Homo sapiens: one gene and its partner. The protein of the gene in region 1 interacts with the protein of each later gene in a pairwise test. Each region holds a gene or a part of one and is shown in the gene's direction. Other genes may lie near its edges.

Region 1 (4,029 bases):
ATTCACAAAGATTCAATTTTGCCTGGGGCTATTTTTTGTTTGCATGATATAAACAATAGATTTTATTACTTAGAAGCAGGTGATTTCCTAGCAATAGTTCTGTTTTGAAATAACCCTGCCTTACTTTCACTTTAAATCTCATCAATATTCACACACACACAGAGAAGTCTTACTCTCTGCTCTCCATTTCTCTCTCTCTCTTCCCCGCTTCCCACCTTCCTCTCTTTTAGAGACAATGTGCAGTAGAGAATCAATGTGGTTTTAACCAAATGGATTTTCAAGTTTGAATCTCGCTCAATTACTTGCTACCTTGGTGTGTAGCTCAATGGCTTTAGTTAGACATATTAATTACCCGTTTTCTGATTATTTTTCCCCCTTGGACAATGGGGATAATAAACAACCTTTATCTTGAGGTATTTTGATATTTAAAATGGTATGTGTAAAGAATATGGCCTAGAATGGAACTGATAAGGAGAAAACATTGTTATTGTACACTCAGCAAACACAGAGGTATTTTAATGAAGTGACTGACAGCAAGACTTCTTGGGCCCAAATCTTATTTAGTAGCTCTGTAATTGTAATAAATTATTAAATCCCTCTTTTAACATTGTGGTAAAAGTATTTGTGATAAGAATACAATGGGATAATCTATGTAAACAAAACGGGTACTATCTTCATTATTATTTATTAAATGTTAAGTGCCAAGACCTGAGTTAGGTGCTAATAATTCAAACATGTATAAGACGTGGACATTCCTTCAGGGCATTTAGAGTCCTCATTATTAAACACAAATAATGAGTTCCATTTTAAGAGTCTAATATTCAAGCCAATTGAACCTAAATAATATTATATTAAGCTTTCTTATTCCTGTACTTCTCAATGTGGCCCACAAACATGAGATGAATGTCATTATTTTAAACGATTCATTGAAGTTTTTTTAATAATCGCAAGCTGTCTCTAAGATCTCTTCCAATAATAAAATTGGAAGATTCTGTTTGAGAAATTATGTCAAATCCTCTCACTAGCACAGCTGTCAGCAATTTCTTTTATTGTTGCTAAATCATGGACTGTCATATTACTCTATTTATTTGCAGAGGTTGCATTGTTTTTTACATGTATAAATACAGGTCTCTAGAAAGTCTGGAAAGCCCCATGACATTGGAGAGGTAAGGTAAAAGTCCAAAGTTCCAGCAAGAAAAAAAGTGGGAGAAATCAGTGCAGCCAAATTCAGAACTAAAGAGAAGAGAATAAAGACTCATAACTTTCTCATTGAAGCTGCCTTCTTACCAAGTCCAGAGGATCTCTACTCTGGGTAAGACTATGACTTATAAGGATTTCATGATTTATAAGGATCCATTAGTTTTCTCTAAGTTGACCATCCCCAAGATAGGCTGCAGCTGAGCCAGCTACAGGATACAAGTCCAGATGAAATCCTGGCCTCTTAGGTGGCTGTGTGTACCTTAGTGTGCTCTAATTCCTGCTGTGTCAGATTAGGCTTCAGCAGAGGTGGAACAGATATTCAGAGAAGCCAGTGTTCTAAGATTGTTATTTCTTTTCTGACACCATCTTAAATTACTGTTATCTTTAAATATCTGCCTAATAGGCTCTGTCACTTTCTTTATTGGGCCCAACATTTATAGCTCTAGGTAAATGAAGGTAGGCAACTTGGGATCTGCAAAAAGAGGCAACACATTATTATAATCCAGGACCTTATAACATCTTTGTGCCACCACCTTTCTGAGCCGGTGACTGATTGATTCCTATGTTATGGTAGCATAGTATATGCTACAGAATTGGACAGACGCATACTCTGTTTTCACTCATCTTCCATAGATACCCAATCTTTTTAGTTTCTGGTTTGCCCTTCTTGCTTGCCAGCAGATCCTGTAGGCCATTGCTATAAGAGGAAATGGGTCATGATCACAGAAAAATAAACGGCTTTTTTTCCATCTTCTGCTGAAGTGATGGGAAGCCAGATAATTTAATATAAACCTCCAGAGGAACAAGTCAGAAGTAACCAACTCTATAGTGGAAACAAACCACTCTTTATTATAGGATAAAAAAGAAAACTGCAGTATCTATCATCTATATTTGCTTGTATCTTAAAGAGATTATATATTTTGTATCATGATCACATAAGTTACAAGGATTGAGACATTCAACTTAAAAACACAAAATTAAAGCATCACTACAAGAAGGCTTTTCACTCCTTTTAACTTTACAAAATTATCAAAATATTTAATTTATCAAGCCCTGGATAAAGATAGCATGATTACAATTGTGCATATGCTACTCTCTATACAGCAGAGATCAGACAAAAAACAAGCCATGGTTTTTCAAAGAATGTTTCATGCTGTGACTTCATTACATGAAATAATTAAAAACAATATGCAGACTGATATACATGGAGGTAATAAAGAATCAATCTTCAAATGCAGAGAATTCAAAATCTGTTAACATAATCAAGTCAAAAATCAACAGAGTAAGTGTCAGGTGCGAGCTATCAGGCTTGCATGAATAACGTGTGAATGCTGATGCACAGTGAGAGGAGGAAGCCATTGGGTAACCTGAGTCCCACAGTCTGACCAGACCCTGCCCACAGAGGGGCTTGCAAGAAATCAGGACCAAGAATGGGTTAGAATGGTATCTATGTTTCAAAGTATAGAGATATGTATAACACAATGTTTCCCAGGTGAAGATTACTACTACTATATACATGAGCTCAGCGAGCTCAGCTTTGCTCAGTCCAAAGATCTAAATGTGAACGTGAAAAGCTTCCAAAGGAAATTTTGTAATTAATTCAGAAGAGCAAGCGGGGCACCTAGGAAAAATTCCATTTTCTAGAAAATGACATACAAGATGAGCTGGTGGGAATGCAACCTTGTACAACTTTCTGGAGAGGAACTTGGCAATATCTACAAAATTATATACTCTCATCTTTTGACCAAGCAATCCCGTTGGTAGGACTCTATCCTGAAATTACTCCTGTAACAATATAAAAATACACATGCATAACGTTAGCAGAGTTATTCATTGCAGCATTGTTTGTAATTGCAAAATATTTGAAACAATCTAAATGCCCATACATTGAAGAGTGATTGAATAAACTGGGGTATAATCCACATAAAGGAGTAGATACATGTTAAAAGGATTTTAAAAGCTTTCTATGAACAGATGTGGAGGGATTTCCAAATTTCTATATGATGTGATCTTCGTGTTAGAAAATGTGAAAAAGAAAATATGTACATTCTCATTTGAGAAAAGAAAATCCAAGAAGCGTAAACCAGAAACTAACAAGATTGGGTATCTATGGAGGATGGGTGGGAATGTGGTAGAAAGAATAGAAGACCACTGCAATGTGAGTGGAGTGGTAAGATGAAGGAAAAGTGACACTTCTCTGACTGTAACTTTTTGAAAAGCTCTGCATTTCAGAACCATGATGTTTCACAAACTCAAAAAATAAATCATACTTAAAATCAACCAAGATACCAAGATGTGAAGGAGGCCAAACTGAAACACAAACAGTAACAAATGTAACTAACTGTTTTACAAATGAATAATTTAACCATACTGAAGAAGGTGGAGAAGGAAAAAGCTAACCTAAGCAACTTTGGAATGCAATGTTTTGAGTGTGTATATAAGGCTAAAGACCAAAAGAACTGTACACTAATAATTTTCTATAGGAAGTAAATTTATTTTTCCACAGACTTATTATCAATTTTGAAACTACTATATGAATATACTAGGACTGAGCAAGGAAACAAATGTATTATGTGTTAGAAGACCAAAGTCTAGCTTACTTGGAGAAAATAGTTTAAAAAGGAAAGTCAAAAGCTTGAATAAGCTCAGATGTGTTGGATTGGAACTGGAAATATCAACAGAATCTCAAGCTTTATTATAGAAATGTACAGATAAAAATAAATATAGATGTGTCCTAGTATACATACATATATTTCTTAACTTTGCCCCTGAGTGGGTCTAGAAATAATGAACACACCTAGAGTGATATATTGGTGTCAAAGTACCATT
Region 2 (3,500 bases), on another chromosome or scaffold:
AAAATACACACTAGATTTCAAAGAGTACAAAAAAGGAATGAAATACCTCATTAACAGTTTTTTTGTCTTTCTTTGTTTCTTTCTTTCTTAATTTTCTTTCTTTTCTTTCTCTCACTCTGTCACCCAGGCTGGATGCAGTGGCACAATCTCAGCTCACTGCAGCCTCTGCCTCCTGGGCTCAAGTGATCCTCCTACCTCAGCCTCCCAAGTAGCTGGGACCACAGGCGTGCCACCATGTCCAGCTAATTTTTTATATTTTTGGTAGAGACGGAGTTTCACCATGTTGCCCAGGCCAGGATATTTTTTATATATTGGGTTAAGTGAAATATATTGTTGATTAATTTCACCTAATTCTTTGTATTTTATTTTTTAATATGGCTACTGAGAATTTAAAAATTTAATATGTGGCTCACAATGTATTTCTATTGGACAGGATTACTCTAGAGAGAAATTTTGTGGCCAAATTTATTTGGGAAAAAGTTGGATATGCTATTTCTCCTTGAAGATTTATTACAAATATTAGGATAGGAATACTGAAGAGTCTTACCCACAAAAAGTTTTTAAGATTTTGGTTAACCCAGCAATTCCCAAACATATCATATTGTTGGACTATTAGTTAACATTCTATGGAACTAGCTGTAGAACTATAGAATTTGTTAATCCCAGTTTTGGAATAGTTCTACTTCAATTATCTTTGTTTTACTGATGAGAAAACTGAAGGGTAGAGTTGGTCACATTACATAACTTGGAAATTATATAAACATCTCCTTAGGGAAAGTTCAAGAAAAAGATATATACGTATATTTATTGGTAGGGTGACCACTTGTTTTTAATTTGGCATAAAATCATTTAAATTGATAATATAGGCCAGGTATGGTGGCTCACGCCTGTAATCCCAGCACTTTGGGAGGCCAAGGTGGGCGGATCACTTGAGGTCAGGAGTTCGAGACCAGCCTGGCCAACATGGTAAAACCTTGTCTCTACTAAAAATACAAAAATTAGCTGGGCGCAGTGGCATATGCCTGTAATCCCAGCTACTTGGAAGGCTGAGGCACGGGAATCACTCAAACTCAGAAGGCGGAGGTTGCAGTGAACCAAGATCATGCCACTGCACTCCAGACTGGGCAGCAGAATGAAACTGTCTCAAAATAATAGGCCAGGTGCTATTTATTACAGGCTCATGCCTATAATCCCAGCACTTTGGGAGGCTGAGGCAGGTAGATCACTTGAGGTCAGGAGTTCGAGACCAGCCTGACCAACATGGTGAAACCCCATCTCTACTAAAAATACAAAAAAAATTACCCGGGCATGGTGGCACACGCCTGTAATCCCAGCTACTTGGGAGGCTGAGGCAGGAGAATCGCTTGAACTTGGGAGGCGGAGATTGCAGTGAGCCAAGATCGTGCCATTGCACCACAGCCTGGGTAACAAGAGCTAAACTCCGTCTCAAAAAAAATAGTAATAAGATAAAATAAATTGATAATATAGTGGGGAAGATCTTAAATTTATTTTTTTAAATCTTGGTTTCTGCCTTCAACTTCTGGTTTTAGTCTACAACATTGCTTAATGTTTTACTGTGTCATATCCTGGGACAATGATTATTAACCTTTTAAAATTATAGACTGAGATTCTGAAAAGAAAACAAAAGCTTCACAGATTCTCTCATCAGAATTATTAATATGCACACAACTTGTGTAGGATTTCAGGAGGTCATTGACCTTCTAAACCTATCCATTGACTGCAGATTAAGAATTCTTCTCTTATGATTCAGGGATAATGAATTTATGGCTATTAACCAACATAACTCTCACTCTTGAATTGTAGTATTAAAAAGCCCACCAATCTGTAGATGTTTATTAGGTATGTATATTGCATAATTCTACACTGAAGAATCCCGTAAGTATAATATAGTGTCACCACTCACAAGGAATTTAATATTTCCTATGGCTTAAAACATATTTTTGAAAAAACTTTACATGATAAGACTCATTTTACCTTACCTTAGAAATATTTATGGAAAGCTCTATAAAATTTTAGAGTAAGTGAAATACACAGGGTTCAGGAAAGGTTAGTCCTCTAATGAGCAGTTAGAAAAACCATCATGTGCTATATGTGAGCAATGTTTGGGATATCTCTAGGGAAGTGGACATTATTATAACTTCCAAACATGTCTTGCATTGATCAGTGATTTTTCTGTCTTCTCACTCCATCAGGGACACCCGTGCAGTAAGATGCAGAATTTCCCATCCTGCATTTTTAAGAAAAATGCCAGAAGAGACTCTTTTTCTTCAGGAGTATAAACTGATGCTTTATTTACCAGGCAGTACTGGATTTCAGTGTAGGCCCAGTTATACAGATTTATAAATCAAAGAGAATATAGATGAAGTTGGATGCAGTGGCACACACCTGTAATCCTAGCAGCTCAGGAGGCTGAGGTGGGAGGATCTCTTTAGGCCAAGAGTTTGAGACAAGTCTGGGCAACATAGCAAGACCCTGACTCTAAAAAAGATTTAAAAATTAGCTGGGGGCCAGGCGCAGTGGCTCATGCCTGTAATCCTAGCACTTCGGGAGGCTGAGGCAGGTGGATTGTCTGAACTCAGGAGTTTGAGATCAGCCTGGGCAACATGGTGAAACCCCATCTCTACTAAAATACAAAAGAAATTAGCCGGGCGTGGCGGTGTGTACCTGTAGTCCCAGCTACTCGGGAGGCTGAGGCAGGAGAATTGCTTAAACTCAGGAGGCGGAGGCTGCAGTGAGCCGAGATCACACCACTGCACTCCAACACTCCATCCTGGGCGACAGAGCAAGACTCTGTCTCTACAAAAAAAAATAATAATAATAAAAAATACATAAAAAATTAGCTGGGTATGGTGGCACATGCCTGTCGTCACAGCTACTTGGGAAGCTGAGATGGGAGGATTGCTTGAGCCCAGGGGCTTGAGGCTGCAATGAACTATGATCATACCACTGCACTCTAGCCTGGGTGACACAGTGAGACTCTGAATATTAGGGGAAACAAATGTGTGTGTGTGTGTGTGTGTGTGTGTGTGTTTTTGTGTATGTACTGAAAGAGACAATGTCTGAGGATTTTTTTTTTTTTTTTGAGACAGAATCTTGGAATCTCGCTTTGTTGCCCAGGCTGGAGTGCAGTGGCGCGATCTCGGCTCACTGCAAGCTCCATCGCCTGGGTTCACGCCATTCTCCTGCCTCAGCCTCCCGAGTAGCTGGGACTACAGGCACCCGCCACCACGGTGGGCTAATTTTTTGTATTTTTAGTAGAGATGGGGTTTCACTGTGTTAGCCAGGATGGTCTCGATCTCCTGCCCTCGTGATCCACCCGCCTCAGCCTCCCAATGTGCTGGGATTACAGGCGTGAGCCACCGCGCCCGGCCTGAGGATTGTTAACTAAAAAGTTTGAGACCCAGATCTGATCCTTATTTTCTGTTGGACATCCCTTGAAGAGTTGAGCTGCTTTACAGAGATGGCTTATATCCACTAAA

Evidence for each region. The genes of interacting proteins can lie anywhere in the genome.
Region 2: the proteins of GBP7 (region 1) and PBX3 interact in a two-hybrid assay, tested with the Homo sapiens proteins (one large-scale study listed by BioGRID).

The regions. Positions count from the first base shown.
Region 1 is NC_000001.11:89,173,204-89,177,232, reverse strand, and holds the start of GBP7 (guanylate-binding protein 7), read left to right. Parts: upstream 1-1,229; 5' UTR 1,230-1,312; intron 1,313-4,029.
Region 2 is NC_000009.12:125,925,373-125,928,872, forward strand, and holds part of PBX3 (pre-B-cell leukemia transcription factor 3), read left to right. Parts: intron 1-3,500. UniProt on the Homo sapiens protein: Transcriptional activator that binds the sequence 5'-ATCAATCAA-3'.